Regions from separate parts of the Homo sapiens genome. Here region 2 is linked to region 1. Evidence: fine-mapped expression QTL. A gene starts in region 1. The other region holds a variant in brackets. All regions are shown on one strand. Distances are from middle to middle.

What was found. PIP is the estimated chance that this variant, and not a neighbour inherited with it, causes the effect.
Region 2: its variant is fine-mapped to the expression of DRC9 in adrenal gland (GTEx, PIP above 0.99). The same link has a PIP of 0.9 or more in pituitary, putamen and unexposed skin.

The regions. Positions count from the first base shown.
Region 1 is chr3:197,956,656-197,972,121 of GRCh38, reverse strand. It overlaps DRC9 (dynein regulatory complex subunit 9), which reads left to right and starts at 12,131. Exons shown (of 12, transcript NM_032263.5): 1 at 12,131-12,277; 2 at 12,403-12,593. LMLN (leishmanolysin like peptidase) reads right to left here and starts at 11,905. Exons shown (of 17, transcript NM_001136049.3): 1 at 11,682-11,905. The coding sequence starts at 11,876. RefSeq lists silencers at 4,317-4,517, 11,847-12,076 and an enhancer at 12,628-13,128.
Region 2 is chr3:197,902,422-197,917,887 of GRCh38, reverse strand. It overlaps DRC9 (dynein regulatory complex subunit 9), which reads left to right. Exons shown (of 12, transcript NM_032263.5): 8 at 3,846-4,007; 9 at 5,139-5,213. It overlaps LOC124906330 (a long non-coding RNA gene), which reads right to left and starts at 12,204. Exons shown (of 2, transcript XR_007096246.1): 1 at 9,450-12,204; 2 at 7,557-9,316. RefSeq lists enhancers at 4,043-4,674, 4,058-5,257 and a silencer at 11,690-11,739. The variant G/C (reference allele first, on the strand shown) is at 9,010.

The DNA.
Region 1 (15,466 bases):
TCACCCTACAGCCTGGGTGACAGAGCAAGACAGTCTCAAAAAAAAAAATTCACTAGAAAGAATTAAAAGAAGATTGGAGATGGCAGAAGCATCAGTGAACTTGAAGATAGATCTAGACATTATCCAATCCGAAGAAGAGAAATGAAAAAGACTAAAAAAAAAAAAAAAAAAAAAAAAGAACAGAGACTCAGAGAATGGGTACCAAGCAGTCTAGCAGATAGGTAATTAGAGTCCTATAAGGACAGGAGAAAATATGAGACAGAATATATATTTGAAAGAAATAACAGCTAAAAAATTTCAAATTTGGTGAAAGACATCAACTTACAGATCCAAGAAGTTCACTAAACCTCAAGCAGGATAAAAAACAAACAAGGCTGGGCGTGGTGGTTCATGCCTGTAATCCCAGCTCCTCAGGAAGCTGAGGCATGAGAATCACTTGAACCCGGGAGGCGGAGGTTTCAGTGAGCCAAGATCGTGCCACTGCACTCCAGCCTGGGCAACAGAGTGAGACTTTGTCCCCAAAAACAAACAAACAACAACCAGGTACATCATAGGCAAACTTGTGACATCTAAAAATAAAGATAAAATATTGAAAGCAATGAGAGAAAAACAACACATTTTATATGGTTTGGCTCTGCATCCCCAGCCAAATTGCATCTTAAATTGTAATCCCACATGTCAAGGGAAGGAGGTGACTGGATCATGGGGGTGTTTCCCCATGCTGTTCTCATGATAGTGAGTTCTCACAAGATCTGATGGTTTTATAAGCAAGCCTCTGGCATTTCCCCTGCTTGTACTTCTCTCTCCTGCCACCATGTAAAGAAGGTCCTTGCTTCTCCTTCATCTTCCACCATGATTGTAAGTTTCCTGAGGCCTCCCCAGCCATGTGGAACTGTAAACCACTTTCCTTTATAAATTACCCAGTCTCAGGTAGTATCTTTATAGCAGTGTGAGAACTAATACAACATTATACATAGGAAGGGAAGAGAAGTACGAATGGCATTGACTTTCTGTGAAGAACAATAAAGAACAGAAGACAATGAAATAAACAGGAAAGGGCTAAAATAAAGAAATTCAACACAGAAGTCTATATCCAATGAAAGTACCCTTCAAAAATGAAGAGGAAATAAAGACATTTCACATACATCTGAGAAAACTGATCACCAGCAGACCTACACTACAGGAAATGCTAAAAGAAGTTATTCGTGGGAATGGAAATAACACAAAAGGGTAACCTGTTTCTGTAGGAAGAAATAAAAGCTATTGGAAATGGTAAATACGTGAATAGATATGAAAGACTATTGTGCAGAAGAGTCAACACAGCAGGTCAGAGATTGCTGCTCTCTGTAGGAAGTCCTGCTTGCAAGGTTGACCTTTTGCTGGCATCTAGAAGTGTAATTTAAAACTTCACTAGGTTATAAGGATGGCTCATTGTGTCTAAACTATTTGCAGAAACAATATGGTTTATGTTGAACATTTGCTTGCTTCTGGAGTCTGAAATTTCAGTGGCTGAAATTTTGTCTACGTGACCAGCCTCCAATAAAAACCCTGGACTCTAAGAATCAGGTAATCTTCCCTGGTAGACCACACTTTGTGCACGCTGTCACAACTCACTGCTGAAGGAATTAAGCAGGTCCTAAGTGACTCTACTAGGAGAGGACTCTTGGAAGTTTTTGCCTAATTTCCTCTAGTCTTTGTCCCATGATCCTTTTCCCTTTGCTGATTTTACTTTGTATGCCTTCACTGTAATAAATCTCAGCTGTGAGTATGACGACAAGCTGAATCTAGCGAGGCCACCTAGCAATCACCAAACCTGGAGTGGTCTTGGGAATCCTCAACACAATTATACACACTTCTTTTCTTCTGTTAATTTCTTTGGAGACAAATAAATATTTAAAGCAAAAATTGTAAAATTTTTAATTGTGAAGTTTATTTTTTTTATTTATTTTATTTATTTATTTTGGGTTTTTTTGAGACAGTCTCTCTCTATTGCCCAGGCTGGAGTGCAGTGGTACAATCTTGGCTCACTGCAACCTCCGCCTCCTGGGTTCAAGCAATTCTCCTGCCTCAGCCTCCTGAGTAGCAGGGATTACAGACACCTGCCACCATGCCCAGCTAATTTTTGTACTTTTGTAATTTTAGTAGAGACAGGGTTTCACCACGTTGGCCAGGCTGGTCTTGAATTCCTGACCTCAGGTGATCCGCCAGCCTCGGCCTCCCAAAGTGCTGGGATTACAAGCATGAGCCACTGTGCTGGCCTAATTGTGAGGTTTAAAATATATAAAGAAGTCATATATTAATATATTTACAATATTATATTACAACAACAGCAAAATGAATGAAATTATGCTGTTGAAAATGTCCCATATTTAACATGACTATTTTAAATAGATACCATAAGTACACTACATATATTGTAGTCACTGGAGCAAACACTCAATATTTTGTGTTGTACATTCTGCTTCAGTGCGTGTGGGACATTCACCTAGCTAGATCATATTTTGGGCCATAAAACAAACTTTAAGACATAAAAGAACTGGTAAAAAGGATGCTCTCTATCAATAACAAAATTCGACTAGAATGCAATTTCAGAACAATATCTGGGAAAATCCCCAAATACTTTTGAAAAAATCAAACAACAAACTTCTAAATAACCCTTAGTTAGTAGAGAAAATTACAAGGGAAATTAGAAAATAGAAGTAAATGAAAATAAAATTACAAGTTAATATTTGTGGGATACAGCTAAAGGAGTATTTAGAGGAAACTGATAGCTTTAAATGCCTATTTTAGAAAAAAGATCTCAAATTCATGATCTAAGGTTCCACCTTAAGATACTAAAAAAAATATATATATATTAAACTCAAAGAAAGCACTAAGGCTGGCATGGTGGCTCATACCTATAATCCCAGCACTTTGGGAGGCTAAGGTGGGAGGATTGCTTGAGCTCAGGAGTTCAAGGCTGCAGTGAGCAGTGATCGTGCTATTGCACTTCAAACTAGGCAACAGAGTGAGACCCTATCTCAAAAAAAAAAAAGACAGAGAGAATACAAACTACCAATGTCAGAAACTACACAGAAGATATCACTACAGACTTTCCAGCAATTTAGAGATGATCATAAAGGAATGTTATGAAAAACTTCATGTCCATAAATTTGACAACTTAAATGAAGTGAAATTCTTTGAGAGACATAACTTAATAAAACACTGTTAAGAAATAAATAACCTGAATAGTCCAATATCAAAGTTTATGAGTTCATAGTTTATGACTTTCAAAAAAGAAAATTCCAGACTGAGATGGCTTAATTAGTGAATTCTACTAAACATTTAAGGAAGAAACAACATTGATTCTACAGAGACTCTTCCTGAATATAGAAGAAAATGGGACATGTCCCAACTCATGCTATGAGACCAGCATTATCCTGATACCAAACCTGTGTTGCAGGAAGTCAGGGACCCTGAACGGAGGGACCGGCTGGAGGCGCGGCAGAGGAACATAAATTGTGAAGATTTCATTTTAATATGGACACATACAGTTCCCAAAATTAATACTTTTATAATTTCGTATGCCTGTCTTTACTGCAATCTCTGAACATAAATTGTGAAGATTTCATGGACATTTATCAGTTCCCAAATAATACTCTTACAATTTCTTTTCTTTTTTTTTTTGAGACAGAGTCTTGCTCTGTTACCCAGGCTGGAGTACAGTGGTGCAATCTCAGCTCACTGCAAGCTCACACCATTCTCCTGCCTCAGCCTCCCAAGTAGCTGGGACTACAGGTGCCTGCCACCACACCCAGCTAATTTTTTTTTTTTATTTTTAGTACAGACGGGGTTTCACCGTGTTAGCCAGGATGGTTTCGATCTCCTGACCTCGTGATCCGCCCGCCTCGGCCTCCCAAATTGCTGGGATTACAGGCATAAGCCACCACGCCCAGTGTACTCTTATAACTTCTTACGCCTGTCTTACTTTAATCTCTTAATCTTGTTATCTTCCTAAGCTGAGGATGTACATCACCTCAGGACCACTGTGATAATTGTATCTAACTGTATAAATTGATTGTAAAACATGTGTGTTTGAACAATATGAAATCAGTGCACCTTGAAAAAGAACAGAATAACAGCAATTTTAGGGAACAAGGGAAGACAACCATAAGGTGTGACTGCCTAAGGAGTTGGGCAGAATACAGCCATATTTTTCTTGTTGCAGAGAGTCTATAAATGGATGTGCAAGTAGGGAAGATATCGCTAAATTCTTTTCCCAGCAATGAATATTTAAGACCCTGGGAAAGGAATGCATTCCTTGGGGGAGGTCTATAAATGGCCACTCTGGAAGTGTCTGTCTTATGTGGTTGAGATAAGGACTGAAATATGCCCTGGTCTCCTGCAGTACCCTCAGGGTTATTAGGGTGGGGAAAAAACCCCACCCTGGTGAATTTGAGGTCAGACCGGTTCTCTGCTCTCAAACCCTGTTTTCTGTTGTTTAAGATGTTTATCAAGACAATACGTGCACTGCTGAACACAGACCCTTATCAGGAGTTTTTGATTTCGCCCTTGGCCTTGTGATCTTTGCTTTGCCCTTTGCCTTGTGGTCTTTACTGGCCTCAGAAGCATGTGATCTTTGTTCTCCTTTTTGCTGTTTGAAGCATGTGATCTTTGTGACCTACTCCCTCTTCGTACACCCCCTCCCCTTTTAAAGTCCTTAATAAAAACCTGCTGCTTTTGCGGCTCAGGCGGGCATCACGGTCCTACTGATAGGTGATGTCATCCCTGGAGGCCCAGCTGTAAAATTCCACTCTTTGTACTCTTTCTCTGTATTTCTCAGCTGGCTGACACTTAGGGAAAATAGAAAGAACCTACTTTGAAATATTGGGGGCGGGTTCCCCCGATAAACCTGAAGTTATTATTAGAGAGGAAAAGAAAACTACAGACCAGTATCCTTGCAGGTAGTTGGTAAAAAACCATAAATATAAAATTTAAAAAATAAAATTAAAAAAACTACAGACCAATATCCCTTATTAATATAGATGTAAATGTGCAGTGGCTCACACTTACAATCCCAGAGCTTTGGGAGGCCAAGGTAGGAAGACTCCTTGGGCCCAGTGGCTCCAGACGAGACTGGGAAACACAGCAAGAGCCCATATCCACTAAACATGAAAATAAATGAACCAGGTGTGGTGGCTCTCACCTGTAATCCTAGCTAACTGGGAGGCTGAGGCAGGAGGACTGCTTAAGCCAAGTCATTTAAGGCTGTATAGTGAGCTATGATTGTGCCACTATACTCCAGCCTGGATGACAGAGTAACACCCTGTCTCTAAAAAAATAAAAATACATAGATGTAAAATCATCAACAAAATATGAGCAACTCAAACCCAGCAAAATGTAAAAAGGGTAATAAATCATCACCAAGTGAGGTTCATCTCAAGAATGCAAGGCTGATTTGACATTCAAAAAAAATCAATCAATGTAACTCATAATATCAACAGAGTAAAGAAGAAAAGCCACATGATTGTATCAACTGGTGCAGGAAAGACAGTTAACAAAATTCAACATCCATCCATGATTAAAAAAAAAAAAAACTCTTAGAAAACTAGGTATAGAAGGGAATTTTCTTAATTTTATAAAGCATACCTACCCAAAAACTCCACAATTAATATTTTTAACAGTGGAAGACAATGTTTTCCCTCTAAGATCAGAAACAAGACAAGGATGTCTACTCTCACCACTCTTATTCAACATCATGCCCCAGACAGTGTGATAATATTAACATTAAAGATGTAATAGGCCAGGTGCAGTGGCTCATGCCTGTAATCCCAACACTTTGGGAGGCTGAGGCGGGTGGATCACTTGAGGTCAGGAGTTTGAGACTAGCCTGGCTAACATGGCGAAACTTGTCTCTACTAAAAATACAAAAATTAGCCGGGCATGATGGCAGGTGCCTGTAATCCCAGCTACTCTGGAGGCTGAGGCAGGAGAATTGCTTGAACCCAGGAGGCAGAGGTTGCAGTGAGCCAAGATTGTGTCACTGCACTCCAGCCTGGGCAACGGAGAGAGACTCTGTCTCAAAAATAAAAACATGCAATAAACAAAAGATATATGTTGTAATGCCTAAAATGCACAAGCACACACACATACACACAGGTAAATGTAGGCAACTGAAAAGATACACATGTAAGCTTGAACCACAAGCAAGCTAAATACACCTATTTTCTCCTGTATTAATACAGTCTTTATTAGGCTAGAACACAGTGGTGCCAACCTGGCTCACTGCAGCCTTCACCTCCTGGGCTCAAGTGATTCCCCCACCTCAGCCCCACCAAGTAGGTGGGACTACAGGTGTACAACACCACACCCAACTAATTTTTGTATTTTTTGTAGACACGGGGTTTCACTAAGTTGCCCAGGCTGGTCTTGAACTCCTGAGCTCAAGCGATTTGCCATCCCGGCCTCCAAAAGAGCTAGACTTATAGGCATGAGTGACTGTACTTGGCCAATAGTTTTTAATAGAGAAAATCTGAAGTAAAGTATCAATCACCTCAGCTTATTAACATGTATAGAAATCTATATTCAATAACTACAGAATAGGCCAGGTACAGTGACTCATGTCTATAATCCCAGCACTTTGGGAGGCCAAGGCAGGAGGATTGCTTGAGTCCAGGAGCTCAAGACCAGCCCGGGCAACATACTGAGATCCCATCTCTAAAACAATAAAATAAAAAAAAACTATAGAATATATATTCTTCACAAGTACACGTGAAAAATTAAACAGGATAGATCATATTCTAAACCATAAATAAAATAATCTCAGCCAGGTGCAGTGGCTCACGCTTGTAATCCCAGCACTTTGGGAGGCTGAAGCAGGAGGATTGCTTGAAACTGGGAGTTCAAGACCAATCTGGGCAACACAGCAAGACTCTGTCTCTACAAAAATAAAAATAAAAAATGTGCCAGGTGTGGTGGCATGTGGCTGAAGTCCTAGCTCCTCATAAGGTTGAGGCGGGGAGACTGCTTGAACACAGGAGTTCGAGGTGGCAGTGAGCTATGATCATATCACTGCACTCCAGCCTGGGTGACAGAGGGACACCTTGTCTCTTTCTTTCTTTTTTTTTTTTTTTTTGAGACAGAGTTTCGCTCTTGTCGCCCAGGCTGGAATGCAGTGGCACAATCTCAGCTCACTACAAACTCCACCTCCTGAATTCAAGCAATTCTCCTGCCTCAGCCTCCAGAGTAGCTGGGATTAAAAGTGCCCGCCACCATACCTGGTTAATTTTTGTATTTTTAGTAGAGACAGGTCTCGCCATGTTGGCCAGGGTGGTCTCAAACTCCTGACCTAAGGTGATCCACCCACCTCGGCCTCCCAAAGTGCTGGGATTACAGGCATGAGCCACTGCACCCGACCAAGACCCTGTCTCTTAAAAAACTTTTTTAGGCCGGGCGTGGTGGCTCACGCCTGTAATCCCAGCACTTTGGGAGGCCAGGGCAGGCAGATTACAAGGTCAAGAGATCAAAACCATCCTGGCCAACATGGTGAAACCCCATCTCCACTAAAAATACAAAAATTAGCTGGGTGTGGTGGCGTGCACCTGTAGTCCCAACTACTCAGGAGGCTGAGGCAGGGTAATAGCTTGAACCCAGGAAGCCGAGGTTGCTCTGCTGAGATTGCGCCACTGCACTCCAGCCTGGGCAACAGAGCAAGACTCTGTCTCAAAAAAAAAAAACAAAAAACAAAAAACAAAAAAAAAATTTTAACCTAAATGATAATTAAAATGCAAAGTGTCAAAATTTGTGAAGAGCAGCTAAAGTTGTACTTAGAAATTTATATCTTTGAATGTTTACATTAGAAGGAAAAAAAGGTTAAAAAACAGTCATCTAAGTTTCCGCCTAACAATATGAGCAAACTAAATCCACAATAAGTAGAAAAAGGAAATAACAAAGAACAGAAAACAATGAAATAGAAACAAACATTAAAGAAAATTACCAAAGCCAACATGACCAAGTAAGGTTTATCCCAAAAAAGCAACGTTGATTTACTATTGGAAAATGCAATGTAATCTACCACATAACAGTTCATAAAGTGAGAAACTATATGATTATCTCAATAATTACCAGAAAAAACAAAAAGCATTTGACAAAATTTGTCCCCATTCAGGATAAAAACCCTCGGGAAACCAGAAACCAAAGGGAGCTTTCTCAATCTGATAAAGGGAACTACAAAAAAATGTAAAGTTAACATCATACTTAATGGTCAGAGACTGGTCCTAAGATCAGGAACAAATGGCAAGGAGGCGTGCTATCTCACTTTTGCTCAGCCTGGAACTGCCTGTCCTCACCAGAGCAATAAGGGGGAAAAAATACATAAATGATACAAAACTACAACAACAAAAATTGTTCCTATTTATAGTTAATACATTGCTAACATCAAAAATTGTAAGGGAGGAAACCCTAGTAGAATAAATAAGTTTAGCTAGGTCTCAGAAGACAAGGTTAATATACAAAAATTATTTCTACCTACTAGCAGTGTATTTTTACATACTAGCAGCAAACAACTGGAAAACTTTAACCATAATTCCACTGACAATGGCATCAAAAAATAAAAGACTTAGGAAAACATTTAACAAAAAACATGCAAGATCTGGCTGGGCACGGCGGCTCATGCCTGTAATCCTGGCACTTTGGGAGGTCGAGGCAGGAGGATCGCCTAAGGCCAGGAGTTCAAAACCCACCTGGACTCTGTCTCAACAAAAAATAAAAAATTAGCCAAGTGTAGTGGCGCATACTTGGGAGTCCCAGCTACTTGGGAGATTAAGGCAGAAGGATCATTTGAGCCCAGGAGTTCAAGCCTGCTGTGAGCTATGATTCTGCCACTGCACTCCAGCCTGAGTGACAGAGCAAGACTGTCTCAAAACAAAACAAAAAAAAAAAAGAGAGAGAAAAGAAAACAGAAGAAAAAATGCAAGATCTATACATTTTTGCTGAGAAAAATTATGCATCACCTCAATAAATGGAGAAACATACATTATGTTCATGGATTGAAAGACTTGATACTGTTAGATGTCAATTATCTCCAAATCATCTATAGAGTAAATGCAATCCCAATCATAAACCCATCAGGCTTTTTTGAAGAAACTGAGAAGCTGACTCTAAAATTTATATGGATCTGTCTTTGAGCCTCCCCCTGCCAAAAAATAAATAAATTTATATGGAAATATAAAAGCCTTAAAATAGCCAAAATCATTTTGAAAAGGAAGAACAAAGCAGGAATGCTTACAATAACAATACTGTCTGATTTCAATATTTATTACAGAGGTACATAATCCAGGCAACTGAATACCCATATGGGGCAAAAAAAAAAAAAAAGGATATTGATCCCCTATCTCACATCATATATAAAAATTAATTTCAGATGAATCATAATCCTAAAAGTGAAGGCTTCTAGAACACAGGAGAATATTTTTATGACCTAGGGGGTATTTAAAGATTTCTTAGAAAGGACATCTGTTGGTGAGGATATGCAGCAACCATAACTAATATTTTGTTGATGGGGGTGTAAAATGGTAGAGTATTTTGGAGAAAGGGTTAGTATTTTTTATAAACATTCACCTACCCTTGACCCAGTAATTTCACCCCTAGGTATTTATCCAAGAACAATGAAAACATATATCCACAAAAATTACTGTACAAGAATATTGACAGCAGCTTTATTTATAATAGCTAAAATCTGGAAGAAACCAAAATACCCATCTTTGAACAAGATAACGGAAAAACAAATTGTGATATAAGTATTCAATGGAATACTCAGCAATTCAAAGGAATAAATTACTATCACATACAACACGAATCTCACAGACATAATGCTGAGCAGATGCCAAATACAGAGGAGTACATACCATATAATTCCATTCAATACACGAAGCTCTAGAATTGGCCAAACTAATCTAGTATTTAAAAAAAAAACAATTAGAAAACTAGTTGCCTGGGGTGGGCAGGAGACTGGCACAGGACAGGAGGGAACGTCTGGAGATGTGGGAACGTTCTATGTTGTGATGGGTTGTATGCTTTATGTGGATGTGCATGGATACATTTGTGGCATTTCAATATATGTAAATTTTACCAAAAAACTTCAAAAGAACAGTAACTCAAGTAGGGGGCTGCGGAATGGCTGAAAGTATATGAAACAAGAATGGCGGAACCTTAAAGCTAGGTGTTAAAGCTAGGTGATGGGTCCATGCGGGTTCATTAAATTATTCTGATGTTGTTTGTACCGGCGTAATAAAAGGTAAAAACAAAACTTACAGGCTTTAGTTGAGAACCAGTTAAAAAGTAAAACTGTTTTGTAGCTCCCCAACACCACCAAAACCAAAAAAGTTATGTAATTTCCTGTAGCATTGAACAGAGGTATAGTCATTAGCGTAACTACAGTGAACACTGTAGCTCCTGGCTATACTCCGTGTCCAGGTTAAAACAAGGAGAATAGTGAGGACGACAGGGTATTTATATACTCTATGAGGAACTAGCGAAACGTATTAGGGACCAGGACTCTTTCTCTTATTTTAATCCAAATTAAAAGAGAGAAGTGCAGGGTTTTGTGGGAAATTTTTTTTAAAGAATTCAGCGAAAATGCAGCATGATAAAAGCTGCAAAAAAGCTATAAACTCCGAAGTTAATATTTTGGCTCACTTGGTTATGAAGAGTATGCATGTAACATTTTGGGAAATTACCATAAAAATGAGTGTCTTTAGATTTCTGGGCTGAATTGAACATGTGTAGGTGTATCAGCATGCAGCCCTGCCCCAGGTACTCTCCCTTTCTCAAAGAATATGGATTATCGTGGACCCACCTCTGACCTAAATACTGTGAAGGAATCAAAGTATGAAACACAAACCTTATCCCACGGAACCTTATAATCTAACTGCAAAGGCAAGATACGCCTAAAAAATAAGCCATTATCCCATAGCAGTACTTGGTTAAATGCCAGGAGGGAGTACAGACACGATGTACTTTTTAATGAAAAGAATATTGCGCTGTGGTGGTTTCAGCAGGCTGCCTTGAGGTTAGGGAATTTGAAATGAGACAAAGAATTTAAGCAGAGAGAAAAATGGGATGGGAGGCGGGCAGGCACTTCCAGAGCAGAGGAACCGGGTAAAGCAAACAAAGTGACGACATAACGTGAAAAGAAACCTGAATTTTGTCTCCAGTGAGCCCCCAACGTCCCACCAACGCCTCTATCTGGCTCTCCGTTCAATGTCTTCCCGAAACTTCAGGTCAGCGGTTCCTAAAGTGGTCCCCGGACAAGCATATCTCACCAACCAGCTGGGAACGTAAACTGTCAACTCTGGGGACTCATCCCAGACCTACTGAGTCACTAAGTGGGGGACTGAGGGCGGCAATCCGTGTTGTACCATGTGCGTCGGGTGACTGTGATGCACGCTCAAGTTTGAAAACCACTCCTCGAGGGCTACTGCTAAGCACAACCCTCCGCACAGAAGTGATACTGTTCTGAGCGCCTAACAGCCAACTTGCAGGGTGTAGGGAGCTGAGAGCGGGTCCCAGGCCTGTAAGAGTCAGGCTCTGCCCCAATTTCGCTTTCTCATCCAGGACACCTTCTCCCAGTCACTATCTCCTACGCCTGCTCCTTCTGGGTGACTTTACCCTGAGAGGGCCCGCTCCCGCCCATGTCGCCCTACCTCAGTGTCAGAGGGGACGTGGTGCCGGCAGGGAGGGGAACTGCCCAAGGAGACGGGAGTAGATGTGGCGCTGGCCCGGAGCCCGCCCAACAGGAGTAAAACGCTTCGGACCCACACAGACCCGCTCCAGCGCCACCGGCTCCGGCCCGGGCCTGAGCCCGAGTAACCCACTCCTCCGCCCCATTCGGCCGCCATCTTCGGGCCGAGCGTCGTTACCATGGAGTGCGTGACGCCTCTGCGCCCGCGCCGGCCCCGCCCCTCGCCGCTGGGGGTAGACGGAGGGCCCAGCCGGCGGAAAGGCGCTTTCCGATTGGACAGCGTCACCCGCTAGAAGTTCGCCGCAGAAGATGAGGGCGGCGATCACGTCCATCGCGTCTCGTGGCGCGAAGCCGGCCAATAAATGCTGTTTGGAGGCCCACGTGAGTGGGGCTGTGGGAGGAAGAAAGGCTAGCGGGCGTTGGCCGTATGTGGGTGTCTTGAGGCAGTTTTTCAGTTCTTTCATTTACCAAAGTGACATGCACCTACTAGGTGCCAGGTGTTTAGACGTACATACAACCCTCTGCAAAATCTTTCAGTGTAGTCCTCTGTATGAAAAGGTGAGTGGAATACTTTCATTTACTTATCCTGAGTCACCAACTTTAGGCCCATTACTTAACTAACGCCATTTCCTATAAAAATCTATGATACACCGTTTACTGTTTTACTCAACTCCATCTTTTAGTTTCCAGCCAAGAATTGCCACTGCACCTGAGATAAGGGGGATCCTGGCCATTAAGGAAACCTTGCCTTCGAAACTGAGCCGTGAGGAACTATACAAAATGGGAAATTGGGACAAATCCCAGTGGCTCATGACACTAAGAAGTAAAATTACGAACTCACTGAGCTGGAAGTCATTCAACGGGAATTGAATAGGTAAGCTACTATACTGGGAAATGAAGGAGTAGGAAAGAAGGAAAACCTCAAGTTACAAACTATGGGTGGAGATTCAGCTACGAGGATGGGGTGGTGTTTTAAGTATTACCATTTTACAAGTAAATACTCACTAAATGTGTGTATCATCCCACAACTAGTGGAAGGTGGGATTCCAAACCACATTTGTAACTTAGGAAACGTGCCCTTTCCACTACAATACCACAAATAAATTGCTATTGTGAATAAAGAATGGAACCAGTCATCCTAAGCTCCTGGCTGTAACAATAGTGTTATGCTGAGGAAAGGCTGTTTCTTTTTTTTTTGAGACGGAGTTTCACTCGTCGCCCAGGCTGGAGTGCAGTGACACAATCTCGGCTCAATGCAACCTCTGCCTCCCGGGATCAAGCTATTCCCCTGCCTCAGCCTCCCGAGTAGCCGGGATTACAGGCACCCGCCACCACGCCCGGCCAATTTTTATGTTTTTAGTAGAGACGTAGTTTCACCACGTTGGCCAGGCTGGTCTCAACCTCATGACCTCAGGTGATCCGCCCGCCTCCGCCTCCCAAAGTGTTGGGATTACAGGCGTGAGCCACCGCGCCCAGCCAGGAGGCAAAGCTGTTTCAATGGTGTAGTGGACAAGTTACCAGCCACGCAAGCCCTTTCCTGTAAACCACAGGACTCCTCCTTTGGCAACGGTGACTTGAGTACTTTTGACTTAATTTCCATATGGGAGGAGAAAAACATAAAAACATACATTTATTATTTACAAATGCTGCATCATCTCAGTAAGGAAGAGCATGTATTTGCTTTTGAGTCTCATTTGCCATTGCACATGTAAGTTACTCGAGTTAAAGTCTCAACCGTTTGTTTTCCCCCGCTTTGCTCAGATGCCTACCACTTACCGTGTGTCTGTTCCACTCAGAATACCATCCACTTCTCCATATGCCTAACCCAGACCTGAAATACCCATCTGTCTTCATGGATATGTCCACAGGTTAACATCTTACAGCTTCCTCAAATTCAACTTTAGCTCCTCCCACAAAACCATCTCCTGATTCCCCAACTTTGTAAATGCACCATTATCCATCCAGCCCCCAAAGCCAGAAACATGTTAGAATTCTCCATTTGAGACTGAAAAGCCCACCTAATTTTCCCTTGTTTATGCTGGGATGCCATTGGGATTTGAAATAATCTGAGCTGGTGGCTCATATCTGTAATCCCAGTACTTTAGGAGAACAAGGCAGGGGGATCACTTGAGGCCAGGAATCGAGACCAGCCTGGGACCCCGAAAAAACATTTTAATTGGCTGGACGTGCCTGGCATGCACCAGATTCTCTGGAGGTTGTGGGCAGGGGATTGTCTGAGCCTAGAAGTTCAAAGGTGCAGTGAGCTATGATCACACCACTGCACTACAGGCTGGGCAACAGAAACCCTGTCTCAAATGAGTAAATTTTAAAATTTCCTGTGAATCAAGTTCTTCAGTGACGTTGTATTACACTCAAGAACAATCTTAAGCCTAAGATCCTCAGTTCAGTACAGGAGACCTCTCATGTGGCATTTTAGTTTTCTGGACTTTCCAGTCAGCCACTTGTGTTCCTAAAATCTTCCTGCCATTTCCTCTTTGAGATGCCGCCCTATTTCTTCCTCTACACTTTACGGTTTTATGTTACGCAGCCAGTATACCTACATGCCTCTATCCCTGAATACCCCGAGTACTACTGATCACATCTACTTAACTGGCACAATGAACACAGTAGGTACTTTTAGCTTATGTTGGCCTTTTGGAGTGGGTGTCCAAGATCAGCACTTCCTCGCGCTGACTGCGTAATTCCCAAGTTCAATTTCATTAGCATTCTAATATACAACTTCCAACTTCCGGCCTTGAAGTACTGCTCACTTCTGGTGAATACAGCATCAGTGCACTTTGTTTGCCTTAAAACCACAATCCTGGGAGGCTGAGACAGAATGGCGTGAACCCGGGAGGCGGAGCGTGCAGTGAGCCAAGATTGCGCCACTGCACTCCAGCCTAGACGACAGAGCAAGACTGTCTCAAAAAAAAAAAAAAAAAAACCACCACAATCCTAATAAATGAGCCTGGCAGAGTACTAACACAAGCCCATGTCCACGAAGCACGGGACTCCAACAATGGCAGCTTTGGCTTGCATACCACCATTGGACTGACCAAACCTTTCTTAGAACTGCCAGTGTGACAGAGGGACCTCTGGGGGAGGGCGTCTTGCTTTCTCTTGGGTCAGTATATCTCACTACCCTCTTTGTAGGTTAGCAGATTTGTAACAGGATGTTACTGGAGGAAGGGGAAGTGGGAAAGCTGGACAGTATTCCCACTCTTTTCCCTTACTACAAAAACTTTCCTTCTCAGTCCTGTCTCCAGGAGATGGAAGACCAAATAACACAACAGCCAGTGTGCTTTTCCTACCCAATCCTTTCTTTCACCCTCTTATCCTAATACATTTCCAGCATGTTAATTCTTTTGCAGCATAGACAAGAGAACCCATACACGCTGCAAAACTGCAAAAGGGCTTAGGTGGCAAACTCCCAGTTTCTTGTTGACATTTTCAGTGCAATTTAAAGATGTTAATTTAAAAAACTACCTGTGCTGTAGAGATCAGTAACCCTCAGGGGGCAGACAAAAAGACTGTTACTGCATCAGTTAGAAATGTAGTACTACCTGGGCAACATAGTGAGGCCCATCTCCACAAATAACTAAAAAGTTAACTGGTTGTGGCTGCACATGCCTGTGGCCCCAGCTATTTAGGAGGCTGAGGCAGGAGGTTTGCCTGAGCCGAGGAGGTTGAGGTTGAGGTTGCAGTAAGCTGTAATCACGCCACTGCACTCCAGCCCAAGCAACAAAA
Region 2 (15,466 bases), 54 kb after region 1:
ATGGTGGCACATGCCTGTAATCCCAGCTACTTGGGAGGCTGAGGCAGGAGAATCGCTTGAACCCGGGAGGCAGAGGTTGCAGTGAGCCAAGATCGCACCACTGCACTCCAGCCTGGGCAACACAGCGAGACTCTGTCTCAAAAAAAAAAAAGAGAAAAGAGAAATGGGGAAGACAGGGGAGAAGGGAAGTGCGTATAGAAAGAATGGAAGAAAAACAGTGAGCCAAAAGCAGACATCTCTTAAAATTCATTTCATCAACATTTATTGAGCATATAAGTTGTGCCAGGCACTCCAGCCTGGGCAGGATTTTACAGATGAGAAAATAGGCTTAGTGAGGTCCAGTAATTTGCCTGCAATCCTACAACTTGTAAGAGAATATGAAATATTAAGACATATTTTCAAAGGGCCTATAGCATATTCTGTGCCAGAGATGCTCCGTCTCTTAGGAATGATTCCGATCTAGTTGGAATAACTGTCATACAATTAGAATGATTCTGCAGAGTTATATCAAGAAGCTAGTAGACAAAATAACTTGAAGAATTCCGTTCTGATTCATCTTAGGGACCTTTTTGAGACAGGGTCTTGCTCTGTTGCCCAGGCTAAAGTGCAATGGCATGAGCATAGCTCACTGCAGCCTCGGCCTCCGGGGCTCAAGGGAGTCTACCACTTCAGCCTCCCTAGTAGCTGGGACTACAGGCGCATGCCACCAGGCCCAGCTAATTTTTAAATTTTTTTGTAGAGACAGGTTTTCACTGTGTTGCCCAGGCTGCTCTTGAACTCCTGGGTTCAAGCGAGCCTCCTGCCTTGGTTTCCCAAAGCATTGGAATTACAGGCGTGAGCCACCCCACCAGGTTGGGGCCTAATGATACTTTAAGTCAAGCTTGTCCAACCTGTAGCCCGCAGGCCACATGCGGCCCAGGATGGCTTTGACTGGGGCCCAACACAAATTCGTAAACTTTCTTAAAACATTATGAGAGATTTTTTTGTGTGATTTTTTTTTTTTTTTAGTTCATCATTGGTGTATTTTGTGTGTGGCCCAACACAATTCTTCTTCCAGTGCGGCCCAGGGAAGCCAAAAGATTGGACACCGCTGCCTATGCTTGCTTTCCTTAACGGAGGATTTGTCCAATTACCACTTTGTTTTTTCTTCCAATGGTTACTTAGAATTAATTCCCTAGGTACTTGGGAGGCTGGAGAGAGGGGATTCCTTGAGTCTAGGAGTTCAAGACTACAGTGAGCTATGCTGGTGACACTGCACTACAGCCTGGGGGACACGGTGGACCCTATCTCAAGAAAGAAAAGAGGCTGGCTGCAGCAGTGGCTCCTGCCTGTAATCCTAGCATGTTGGGAGGCTGAGGTGGGAGGATCATTTGAGCCCAGGGTTTCGAGGCCAGCCTGGGCAACACAGTGAGACTCTGTTTCTACAATAATAATAATAATTAGCTGAGTGTGATGTCATGCACCTGTAGTCCCAACTACTCTGTAGGCTGAGGCAGGAGGATTTCTTGAGCCTGGGAGGTCAAAGTTACAGTGAGCCGTGATCATGCCACTGCACTTCAGCCTGAGTGACAGAACAAGACCGTCTCAAAAACAACAACAACAACAACAACAACAAAGCCGGGCGCAGTGGCTCATGTCTGTGATCCCAGCACTTTGAGAGACCAAGGCAGGAGGATCCCTTGAAGCCAAGAGTTTGAGACCAGCCTGGGCAACAGAGTGAGACCCCCATCTCTAAAAATATTAAAAAGTTAGCCAGGCATGGTGACATGCACCTGTAGTACTAGCTACTTGGGAAGATGGCTTGAGCCCAGGAATTGGAGGTTATAGTGAGCTGTGATCGAGCCACTACACTCCAGCCTGAGTGACAGAGGGAGATCCTGTCTCTAAACAAAAAAATTTTTTTAATACAAAAGAACTAATTCTACCCTACTTACATGGTTAAGACGAAAGGCAATTGGAGGCCAGGCGTGGTGGCTCACGCCTGTAATCCCAGCACTTTGGGAGACCGAGGCAGGTGGATCACCTGAGGTCGGGAGATCAAGACCATCCTGACCAATGTAGAGAAACCCCATCTCTACTAAAAATACAAAATTAGCTGGGTGTGGTGGTGAGCACCTGTAATCCCAGCTACTCAGAAGGCTGAGGCAGGAGGATCACTTGAACCTGGGAGGTGGAGCTTGCAGTAAGCCAAGATCATGCCACTACACTCCAGCCTGGGCAACAAGAGCGAGCCTCCATCTCAAAAAAAATGTAAAAAGAGAAGAAAGGCGGTTGGTATCTAGAGGAGCAGGTCTCGGGTTGAAGCACTTTTGTTGCTAGTCGTGTGCTTGTTTGCTGTGCCGTCAGGTCCCCTCCCTGTGGACTTACTCACACACTGATTCCGCCCAAACAGTTCTTTTCAAACAAATGTTACCTCCCTGACTAAAAGCTTTCCAAGGATTCCCATGACAGTTGGAATAAAATCTGAATTTCTCAGTTGGGTCTCCGGGGTCCTGTGTGGTGCCCTTACCGACCTCCAACCTCATCCTGTCCTCCCCTCAACCCTCACTAGGCTAGAGCCTCCGGAGCTTTCTTTCAGTTCCTGGAATGTATCCAGGTCTTGATTGCTTCAGGATTTGGGCATATACTTATTCTTTTTTTTTTTTTTAGAGTTCCCTTAACCCTATTTTTCTTTTCTTTTTCTTTCCTTTTTTTCTTTTTCTTTTCTTTTTTTTTTTTTTTTTTGAGACAGAATCTCGCTCTATCACCCAGGCTGGACTGCAGTGGCATGATCTCAGCTCACTTCAACCTCCACCTCCCGGGTTCAAGTGATTCTTCTGCCTCAGCCTCCCGAGTAGCTGGGATTACAGGCGCCCGCCACCACTCCCAGCTATTTTTCGTATTTTTAGTAGAGACGGGGTTTCACCATGTTGGCCAGGCTGGTCTCAAACTGCTGACCTCAGCTGGTCGCCATGCCTCAGCCTCCCAAAGTGCTGGGATTACAGGCGTGAGCCCCCGTGCCTGGCCAAGCCTATTTTTCATGTGGTGGGCTTACCTGTCCTTCAGGTATCGAATGAGCCATCGCTTTCCCGAGAGAGTCCTTCTCAGACCTTCCAGAGTCTAATGTACTCCTCCCTTGTTATTTCCTCCCACAGCCTCTCGAGCCTTCCTTTTCTATCATTTTGCACAATTTTTGGAAGTTTACACATGTGTTTGTCTCTTTTTAACCACCTCTCTTCTATTAGACTGTAAGCTCTATGAGGGAAGGGAATATGTCTGTTTAGATCTCCACAATTTTCCTAGCTCAGTGCCTGGTGCTGAATAAATATTTTTCTTAATGACTATTGAGTCCTCACAATTGCCAAGCACTTGGTGACCTGCAAAAAGAAAGCGTTTTCACACGTGTTCTCAAGGAAACCTAATAATCACTCTCTGAGATACTTCAGGCAGGTTGGGTGTTTGTATGTTTGTGTGTTTGTTTTATAGAAAGTAAAAAGTTGGAGATTTGACTTGGCCAAGTTCACACAGCTGGAGGCCTGGGTGGGAAGTCAGTTCTTTTGATCATTTTGACCAGTGTTCTTCCTACCAAAATGAGAAAGCTGTGTGGGACATACGGAGTACAGCAATAATGTGCCTGGGAACTAATCTCACAGCCCTGATGCGCCCTGATTCTTAGAAATGCTGTGTTACTCACTTTCATCTATACACTTCATGATTGTTGGCTAAATTTCCCATTGTGTGACAGCGGAAAAATAGTTCCAGTTCCTTATTGATTTATACGCATAAAAGGGAACCGTAAGCCGCTGACTGAACTGAATGGAGGTAGAATGTATTTTCAATTTAGAAACCTGGTCTTTCCACTACAGAGTCAGAATGAGTATATTGCTAACCTCAAGGACCAACTGCAAGAGATGAAGGCAAAATCCAACTTGGAGAATCGCTACATGAAAACCAATACCGAGCTGCAGATTGCCCAGACCCAGAAAAAGTGTAACAGAACAGAGGAACTCTTGGTGGAAGAGATTGAGGTAATCCCTGGGACATTAGCCAAGAACCCAGGAGATGGCAATTGAGCTGTCACTCCTGATCCCCTCTCAGCTAACAAAGGAGGGAGACAAAGATTTCCCTCCATCTCTATCGGCAACAGCCCCTCCACTTGAGGTTGAAAATAAAAGCCTAAATGAGGATATGCGTGTTCGCAAGCAGAGATTCCAGTGGGCTGTAGCCTCCATCTCCCGCCTCATAATGACTTTGAAAATTGGCTGCACTTTCTCTCCTTGGTCACTTCTTATTTTGGCAAACCAATCACCATTTTTCTGACTAATTATAGGGAGAGGGCAAAACGAGGTGCTTAGTTATGGCAGGATTTTGCTGCTGTTTCTTTCATCTAACCAGTACCTTTCACTCCTCCAGTAAGAAATACAGCATCGAGAGCGCTGAACTTCGTTCAAACCTGAGTTTATAGGATGAGAAGTCACGGTGAAAAATGCCAGGAGGAAGAAAGAAGTGGTAGATCTTCTTTGAGGGGAATGCTAAATGGCACACACGCACGCACGCACACACGCACGCACGCACGCACGCACACACGCAAAGCCAGGCACTAGTCCCAGCTAATCGGAGGTGAGGCAGTGAGGCAGGAGGATCCTTGAGTTTGAAGCCAGCCTGGGCAACTTCAGACTTCAACTAGGGAGACTCCCTTCTCACAAAAAAGAAAAGAAAACAAGAAAGAGCAGCAGGCAGATGGGAAGAGGGAAGCAGGAACAAACGTCCTTGGGCCGTGGAATCTGTGTGTGGGAGGACTCCTCGCTCTGAGACTGACGTGGCTCAAGGCCACGTCAACACTCTTCCTGGCACTCCGGAATCCCCCTTTTTAAGCCCCACAGCCTTGTGCCCTTGGAGCGCCGTTTCTGTCCTTCAGTGGGCACCTCTGTTCAGCTCACGGGATTGTGCTCGTCTCGTTAGGGACACACGCAGTCCACACAGTGCCGCGCCACGTGGCTCTGCAGTGTTGGTGAACAGGAGTTGCAGGGAACTGAAAGCCCGGGATCCCAGCTGGTAAAGGGAGCCTCAGCTACCGACCGAGCTGCTGCTCTCATCTTGAGAACTTCTGATTCCCAGCCCTGCGGGGAAGACGTACTGGTATCTGATTGTTCTTACAGAAACTCAGGATGAAAACCGAAGAAGAGGCCCGGACTCATACAGAGATTGAAATGTTCCTTAGAAAGGAGCAGCAGGTGGGTCCCCACAGCTTTTCTATGCTTTGACTTTTTTTTTGTACTCTGCTTATACTGAGGAAACAAAAAGAATATTTTGAAGGAAAACCAACCATCATTCTTTCAGCCTAATGAACTTTAGCTCATGTTTTCTTTCAGGGTTATGCATCTGAATAGATATCTTATATAGCTGTAATTTGAGAGAGTGCAGGTAAAATTTTGTTTTCTGCTTTTATCATTGAGCTTACATAAGAAATTTTTCGATTTCTATATTGCTGTATACTCATAATTTTCAAATTATGACTTAATTTATGACTTAAAATTTATTAAGTCAAATTATGACCTACAAATTTATGGGCTGGGCACAGTGGCTCACGCCTGTCATCCCAGCACTTTGGGAGGCCGGGGAGGGTGGATCACCTGAGTTCAGGAGTTTGGGACCAGCCTGACCAATATGGTGAAACCCTGTTTCTATTAAAAAATACAAAAATTAGCCGGGCATGGTGGTGCGCCTGTAATCCCAGCTATTCAGGAGGCTGAGGTGGGAGAATTGCTTGAACCTGGGAGGCAGAGGATGCAGTGAGCTGAGATCACGCCACCGTACTCCAGCCTAGGCAACAGAGCGAGACCCCGTCTCAAAAACAAAAACCAAAAAAAGACATAATTTTTAAATTAATTATTTTTAAATTATGACTATATTTAAAAATTTTTCCCAATAGTATAGTGGCCAATAAATAAAAAAGAAAAATAAATAAAGGCCGGACATGGTGGCTCACGCCTGTAATCCCAGCACTTTGGGAGGCAGAGGCCAGCGGATCACCTGAGGTCAGGAGTTCGAGACCAGCCTGGCCAACATGGAGAAACCCCGTCTCTACTAAAAATACAAAAATTAGCCAGGCATGGTGGCGGGCGCCTGTAATCCCAGCTACTCAGAAGGCTGAGGCAATAGAATCGCTTGAACCCAGGAGGCAGAGGTTACAGTGAGCCGAGATCATGCCACTCACTCCAGCCTGGGCAACAGAGCAAGAATCTGTCTCAAAAAAAAAAAAATTTACTAATCTTTTACACTATAAAAATAACATTCCCAGTTGAGTGAAGATTTTTAAAATTACTCATTGCTTTTCATTTTTTATGTTATTACAGTTTCTTTATAAAATAATTGAAAATTGTGTTTAACGTTCCATTGAATGGTTGTGCCACAGTTTATTTGTTACACTTTTTTTTTATATTTAGGTTGTTTCTAAAGTTTGTTATTATAAATAATGCACTCATTAAAGCTTTGCCCAAAGAACTGTTTTTCTTCATGGCAACTATTTACTAAAAGCCAATCTCAGTCATGAGATTTTTGTTTCAGAGACTAGTATTTTGTGACTTTTAATAAACATTGCTAATACTCTCGAATCTGTGCTGCCGTTAGCAGTGTTGCAGGCAGTAATTTCAAGGTCTCTTCAATATTAGTAGCCATTTTCAATATTTTTCAAAGTCTGCTAATTTAATGAGTTGTTTTATTTTTTATTTTTGCTTATTAACAGGTGAACATAACATTTTTCCACATGTTTACTCAATTTATTTCTTCTTGTGTGAAATATATATGACACGGTGGTTTTAAGAGCATTTTCAATACTAATAACCAAGCTGGGTCTATAATATATCTAAGGTTAGAATTATGTCTAAGTCTACCTGGAGTCTTTCTTTCTTTTTTTTTTTTTTTTTGTTTTGTTTTTGAGATGCAGTCTTGCTTTACTGCCCAGGCTGGAGTGCAGTGGCGTGATCTTGGCTCACTGCAACCTCGGCCTCCTGGGCTCAAGCGATTCGCCTGCCTCAGCCTCCTGAGTAGCTGGGATTACAGGCGCACGTCCAGCTAATTTTTGTATTTTTAGTAGAGATGGGGTTTCACTGTGTTGACCAGGCTGGTCTAGAACTCCTGACCTCAGGTAATCCACCTGCCTCGGCCTCCCAAAGTGCTGGGATTACAGGCGTGAGCCACCGTGCCCAGCCCCAGCTGGAGTCTTTCAAAATAACCCTATTGGATGAATAAAGAGAAAATTTTCCAGCTTAGTTATAATACAGCTTGCCTTTGGAAAAAGCTAATGAGTTTTCAGTCAAGGATTCCAAATGTGTGGTTAAAGAGGAGAATTTGTAGATGCTCTCTTGCAGGTCTTTACTGAAAAAAATACCTGGTAGGCTATTAGAATTAGGGTTCTGTAGCCCTGCACTTTAAGAATTATGTATCATGTTACCTGTTTCAAGTGTGAGATACCTGGCAGGTGTTGGATATTTATCAGTGAGTTGGTAGATAAATGGATCACGAAGGGATGACGCCAGAGTTTCCCAGATCTTCAGCCCAATAACACAAGCAATACATAAGTATATATTTTTTTATTTTTTATTTTTTAGGGACAGGGTCTCTCTCTGTTTCCCAGGCTTCAGTGCAGTGGTGCCACCATAGCTCACTGCAGCCTCAAACTCCTGGGCCCAAGTGATCCTCCCACCTCAGCCTCCTGAGTAGCTGGGACTACAGGTGTGCACCACCACGTCCAGCTACAATTTCAGACAGAAATACATAGGTTAAAGAAAGTGAAAGCCCTCTTAAATTACTCCCCTTTCTGAAGGGAAGTTTCTTCCACATGTATTTCTTTTCATATACATACTTATACCTAAAAACATACCTATTCTCAGTGGTGGTTTTTTGTTTTGTTTTGTTTTTGAGAGGAGTCTTGCTCTGTTGCCCAGGCTGGAGTGCAATGGCGCGATCTCGGCTCACTGCAACCTCTGCCTCCAGGTTCAAGTGATTCTCCTGCCAGCCTCCCGAGTAGCTGGGATTACATGCACCTGCCACCACACCTGGCTAATTTTTGTATTTTTGGTAGAGATGGGGTTTCACCATGTTGGTCAGGCTGGTCTTGAACTCCTGCCCTCAAGTGATCTGCTGGCCTCAGCCTCCCAAAGTGCTGGGATTACAGGCATGAGCCACTGCACCCGGCCTAGTATTTGTTTCTTAAGTAAATTGGATCATGCTATATATAGTGTTCCAGAGCCTGTTGTTTTCTTCTTACATTTACTTTGTTTTTAATGTTTTCTGTAGCAGTACAGCTGATTGATAGAATATATCTCACACTCAGAATATACTGAAATTTAGTGAACCATTCTGTCAGTAGATTTAGGTTGTTTCCAGGTTTTTCTGTGATAACATTGCGAAACCTTCTTGGTTCTGTCTCTAAGTGTATGGTATGTGGAAAGGTATTTCTTTTGTGTATTGCTGTGGATTTGTTAAACCCTCTAATGGTTTTTCAGTGGATTCATTTGGATTTCCTAGGTGGAAAATCTTACTGCATGCAAATAACAATTTTATATTATCCTTTTTATTATTTATATGTCTGTTTTCATTTCATGGCTTGTTGTCTAGCTAGAAAGTCCAGTGTACTTGTTGGTTGTAGTAGTGACAATGGGGAATCCTTTTTCTATTATTGGTTGTTAATACAACACCACTGTTCTGGTGTTTTAGTCAGGATTACACATGAGTTTGTCATAGTCATGCCAAGTTACTGATATGCAAGTTAGAGCACTCACAGGGAAAGAACAGGACCCTGAAACTTGGAATGAGAACACCTGCTCAGATTCGGATGAAACTGGCAAATCACTTTAAAGCTCCCTTGGCAGCGGAAGTACCCTGCCCTCCTGTGTCTGAGGACACCGCACTTCCTTTGCCTGAAGATCCTGTGATAACTTCATCTGGGAGGATGCCTTGGAAAGGGTTGCTCGCTCTTCAGACCTGGTACAGTCACCCCTGTGATAACTTCATCTGGGAGGGTGCCTT[G/C]GAAAGGGTTGCTTGCTCTTCAGACCTGGTACAGTCACCCCTGTGATAACTTCATCTGGGAGGATGCCTGGGAAAGGGGTCACTCTTCAGACCTGGTACAGTCACCACCCCTGTGATGACTTCATCTGGGAGGATGCCTGGGAAAGGGTTGCTCGCTCTTCAGACCTGGTACAGTCACCACCCCTGTGATAACTTCATCTGGGAGGGTGCCTTGGAAAGGGTTGCTCTTCAGACCTGGTACAGTCACCACCCCTGTGATAACTTCATCTGGGAGGGTGCCTTGGAAAGGGTTGCTTGCTCTTCAGACCTGGTACAGTCACCCCTGTGATAACTTCATCTGGGAGGATGCCTGGGAAAGGGGTCACTCTTCAGACGTGGTACAGTCACCCCTGTGATAACTTCATCTGGGAGGGTGCCTTGGAAAGGGTTGCTCTTCAGACCTGGTACAGTCACCCCTGTGATAACTTCATCTGGGAGGATGCCTGGGAAAGGGGTCACTCTTCAGACGTGGTACAGTCACCCCTGTGATAACTTCATCTGGGAGGATGCCTTGGAAAGGGTTGCTCTTCAGACCTGGTACAGTCACCCCTGTGATAACTTCATCTGGGAGGATGCCTGGGAAAGGGGTCACTCTTCAGACCTGGTACATTCACCCCTGTGATAACTTCATCTGGGAGGGTGCCTTGGAAAGGGATCGCTCTTCAGACCTGGTACAGTCACCCCTGTGATAACTTCATCTGGGAGGATGCCTTGGAAAGGGCTCACTGTTCAGACCTGGTACAGTCACCCCTGTGATAACTTCATCTGGGAGGATGCCTTGGAAAGGGTTGCTCGCTCTTCACACCTGGTACAGTCACCACCCCTGTGATAACTTCATCTGGGAGGATGCCTGGGAAAGGGTTGCTCTTCAGACCTGGTACAGTCACCCCTGTGATAACTTCATCTGGGAGGATGCCTGGGAAAGGGGTCACTCTTCAGACGTGGTACAGTCACCCCTGTGATAACTTCATCTGGGAGGGTGCCTTGGAAAGGGTTGCTCTTCAGACCTGGTACAGTCACCCCTGTGATAACTTCATCTGGGAGGATGCCTTGGAAAGGGTTGCTCTTCAGACCTGGTACAGTCACCCCTGTGATAACTTCATCTGGGAGGATGCCTTGGAAACGGCTCACTCTTCAGACCTGGTACAGTCACCCCTGTTGTCACTGGATCCATAACTAGGGTCAAATCTTAGCATGTTACAGTGGGACATAAAACTCAGATAACTAACTCAGAAGGAAATCACTTACACACCAAAAGAATGGTAAGATTTTGCTAATAAATATTGGAAGAAACCTGGGAAACATGTCGAGTTGATTCTAAGAGTGTTAGATCCAACAGGGTAGGCTATCACACTCCATTTGTTTAATTCATTGATATAGATGCACTTACCAGAGAGTCTGGATTTCATGGTTTAGCTTGAGCAGCAGGAGGTGACTCAACATTTGCCTACATTTGATGAGGTGGAGATGTCAGAGCTTCCCTGCTATGATTTGGGGGAGAGAATCCAAAGATGTAGGGAGACAGGAATGTCACAGTGGATTTATCATGTGTGACTTACACGTCTACCACCAAGCACCCATTCCTAACCATGAGAAGGCCCAGAAGACACTTCTTTACTAAGACATTGAGAAATAGAATAGTGAGGGGAGCATCTGCCTCTCTAAAAGCTCTGTGCTTGCTTTCCTACATAGGCAGGTGTGACCCTAAGGATGTTGTCATTGAGATGAGCTTCCTGGTATCAGTGGGGTGATGGGATCCTGAAGTGCCTCCGGATAATTGGGAGCACTTAATTGTCAGAGATAAGGTGGGCACATTTACCACGAAGGGCGGCAGAGATGTAATCAGAATGCCTTTGGCCACTGGGATTCTTGGCAATGGCTAATGAATGATGGTATCTCTAGGAACAAAATTGTTGGGCTGCCTACTCAAGTATAACAGAAAAAAATTCTGGGTCTGGTAGCCAGAAACCTGATTTGAATCACCACAGCAGAGAGTCACGGCCTCTCCCCTAGCTCTTAGGACTGAGTCAGTTCACAGCCCCAGGGCCCCTTTATGAACTGGGGTGTGAGGGTGTGGGGGGATTTCCCCCAAAGAATGAACTCTGCAGCCCTGCTGCAAGTACCTACTGTAAGTCTCCCTCTAGGCCCTACTCAGAAGACCTGTGCTATTTACAGAGTGACTGTGCACTGGGGAAAGCAAACTACCCAGGCCTTCTGAGATGACTGAAGCATTGGCTCTGAATTGATGTTCATGCACGGGGACCCAAAGTGACAGCGTGGCCACTAGTCAAAATGGGAGATTAATGGTGGTTAGGTGACAGATACCTTACTAAAAGTTTTTTTTGTTGTTTTGTTTTGTTTTCCTAATCTGGATGCGTACTCAATTAGGGAAAAAAAAAAAAGAAAAACAGTTTTTTTGTCCATTGAGTTATTTTTTCTCCTTTAATATGTTAATAAAGTAGAATACATTGAGAGAGTTGCTGATTTGAGTCATCTTTAAATTCCTGGGATAAACCCTACTAGGTCATAACGTGTTTGGCCAGCAGGAATCCTCCTGCGCGGTCTCAGTAAAACGTGTGGGTGGACAAGTGCGGCCGGGTGTCCCACCCACATACCGCTGGCAGCCGCACTCTGGTGACCGGACAGTGAGACGCCCTCCTGTCGTGTGCCTCCAGCGCCCTCTACTGACACAGCTTAGCATTTTGTCAGCTGGCAAGAAAAACGTTCACAGCAAGCATCCACTTTCACAAAGCAAAGAGGTGGATTTGGAGCTGACAGGCAGTAAATTGGTAACTGCCACAAATGAGTTTTTTTTTTTTTAATCATCAACTGTGAGATTTACTCTGTAGGTTTCTGGTAGACAAGCTTTATCAACTTCAGGAAGTATCTTTTTTTCTTGTTAAAAGTTTTTCTTCTCATCAGGATGAGTACTCAATTTTGAGATGGATTTTTTTTTCATTAATTGAGATGATATTGTTTTCTCTTCTTTAATATGTTAATAAAGGGAAATACATTAATAGACTTGCTGATGTTGAGTCATCTTCAAATTCTTGGGATAAACCTTACTCGATCATAATGTGTTATTCCTTTTTTTTTTCTTCTGAGATTGGAATTTTGTTCTTGTTGCCCAGTGGCACGATCTCAGCTCACCGCAGCCTCCGCCTCCCGAGTTCAAGTGATTCTCCTGCCTCAGCCTCCCGAGTAGCTGGGATTACAGGCGCCTGCCACCATGCCTGGGTAATTTTGTATTTTTTTTAGTGGAGACAGGGTTTCTTATGTTGGTCAGGCTGGTCTCAAACTCCTGACCTCAGGTGATCCACCCGCCTCAGCCTCCCGAAGTGCTGAGATTACAGGTGTGAGCCATCACACCCGGCCTGTTATTCCTTTAATAGACTGCTGAAAAACTGATTTATAGACTTAAAATTGTTTCTATTTTAAACTCTTTTCTTTTTCTAATTTTTAATTTTTGTGGGCACATAGTAGGTGTATATACTTATGGAGTGCATGACGTACTTTGATACAGGCGTGTGACACGTGGGAGTCACATCAGGGGAATTGGGGTCTCCATCACCTTGAGCCTTTATCCTTTGTGCTACAAATGATCTCATTACACGCGTTTGGTTCTTTTTAAATTTACAATTAAATTATTGACTATGGTCGCCCTGTTTTGCTACCAAATGCTGGGTCTTATTCATTCTTTCTACTTTTTTGTACACATTAACCATCCCCACACCCTCCGCATCCCCCACTACCTTCCCAGCTTCTGGTAACCACCCTTCTACTCTCGACCTCCATGAGTTCAATTGTTTTAATTTTTAGCTCTCACAAAGAAGAACATGTGAAGTTTGTCTTCCCCTGCCTGGTTTATTTCACTTAACATAATGACCTCAGTTCCATCTATATTGTTGCAAATGACACAATCTCATTCTGGGCCGAATAGTACGCCATTGTTTATATGTCCCACCTTTTTAAATTTATTTATTTATTTACTCCTTTTTGAGAGGGAGTCTTGCTCTGTTGCCCACAATCTTGGCTCACTGCAATCTCTGCCTCCCAGGTTCAAGCAATTCTCCTGCCTCAGCCTCCCGAGTAGCTGGGACTACAGGTGTGCGCCACCACGCCCAGCTAATTTTTGTATTTTAGTAAAGATGGGGTTTCTCCATATTGGCCAGGCTGTTCTCAAACTTCTGACCTCAGGTGATCTGCCTCGGCCTCCCAAAGTGCTGGGATTACAGGCATGAGCCACCACGCCCGGCCCCACCTTTTCTTTATCCGTTCGTCTGTTGGTAGACACTTACATTGCTTCCAAATCTTGGCTATTGTGAACAGTGCTGCAATAAACATAGGAGTGCAGACATCTCTTCCACATCTAATTTCCTTTCTTTTGGGTATATACCTAGCAGTGGAATTGCTGGATCATATGGTAGCTCTATTTTTAGTTTTTTGAAGATCCTCCAAACTGTTCTCCATAGTGGTTGTGCTAATTTACATTTCCACCAACCAATACCGTACCAGGATTCCTTTTTCTCCACAGCCTTGCTAGCATTCATTATTGCCTGTCTTTTAGATACACACCATTTTAACTGGGGCGAGATGATGTCTCGTAGTTTTGATTTGCATTTCTCCGATGATCTGTGATGCTGAGCACCTTTCTATATGTCTGTTTGGTGTTTGTGTGTCTTCTTTTCAGAAATGCCTATTCAGATCTTTGGCCCTTTAAAAAAAAAAATATATATATATATATATATATATGTATGTATATATATATGTATGTATATATATATATGTATGTATATATATGTATGTATATATATATGTATGTATATATATATGTATGTATATATATATGTGTGTGTGTATGTATGTATGTATATGTTATACACATAGAGAGAGAGAGAGACAAGATCTCACTATTGTTGCCCAGGCGGGCCTTGAACTCCGAGCTCAAGCATTCCTCCAGCCTAGGCCTCCCAAAGTGCTGGGATTATAGGTGTGAGTGACTACACTCGGCCCTTTTGGCCCATTTTTCACATTATTAGATTTTTTCCTATAGACTTGTTTGAGCTCTTCATATATTCTGTTTATTAAACCCTTGTCATATAGGTAGTTTGCAAATATTTTCTCCAGTTCTTTGGGTTGTCTTTTCACTTTAATTGTTTTGTTTGCTATGCAGAAGCCTTTTATATTTTATATATTTATTTATTGAGACAGAGTCTTGCTCTCTCGCCCAAGCTGGAGTGTAGTGGCACAATCTTGGCTCACTGCGACCTCCGCCTCCTGGGTTCAAGAGATTCTCGTGCCTCAGCCTCCCAAGTAGCTGGGACTACAGGAGTGCACTGCCATGCCCGGCTAATTTTTGTATTTTTAGTAGAGGTGGGGTTTCACCTCTGGCCTTGAAGTCCTGGCCTCAAGTGATCCACCTGCCTCAGCCTCCCATAGTGCTGGGATTACAGGTGTGAGCCACCACACCTGGCCTGTGCAGAAGCTTTTTAACTTGATATGATCCATTTGTTCATTTTTGCTTTGGTTGCTCGTGCTTGTGGGGTATTACTCAAGAAATCTTTGCCCAGTCCAATGTCCTGGAGAGTTTCCCCAGTGTTTTCTTTTAGTAGTTTCATAGTTTGAGGTCTTAAGTTTAACTCTTTAACCAATTTTGATTTGATTTTTGTAAATGGTGAGAGATAGCTGTCTAGTCTAGTTTCATTCTTCTGCATATGGATATTCAGTTTTCCCAGCACCATTCATTGAAAGGACTATCCTTTCCCCAGTGTTTGTTCTTGGTACCTTTGTCAAAAATGAATTCAGTGTAGATTTATTGATTTGCTTCTGGGTTCTCTATTCTGTTCCATTGGTCTATGTGTCTGTTTTTATTCCAGTACCATGCTGTTTTGGTTACTATAGCTCTATAGTATAATTTCAAATCAGGTAATGTGATTCTTCCAGTTTATTTTTACTCAGGATAGCTTTGGCTATTCTGGGTCTTTTGTGGTTCCATATAAATTTTAGGATTGTTTTTCTATTGCTGTGAAGAATGTCATTGGTATTTTGATAGGGAGTGCATTGAATCTGTGGATTGCTTTGGGTAGTAATGTACATTTTAACAATATTGATTCTTCCAATCCATGAACATGGAATATCTTTCCATTTCTTTTATCCTTTTTTCTTTTGTCTTTCCTGTGTATTTTCAAATAGCCTGTCTTCAGGCTCACGAAGTCCTTCTTCTGCTTGATCACTTCTGCTCTTGAGACTCTGATGCCTTCTTCAATATGTCAATTGCATTTTTCAACTCAAGAGTTTCTGCTTCTTTTTAATTATTTCAATCTCTGTTAAGTTTATCTGATAGATTTCTGAATTGTTTCTCTGTGTTATCTTGAATTTCTTTGAGTTTCCTCAAAATGGCTATTTTGAATTCTCTGTC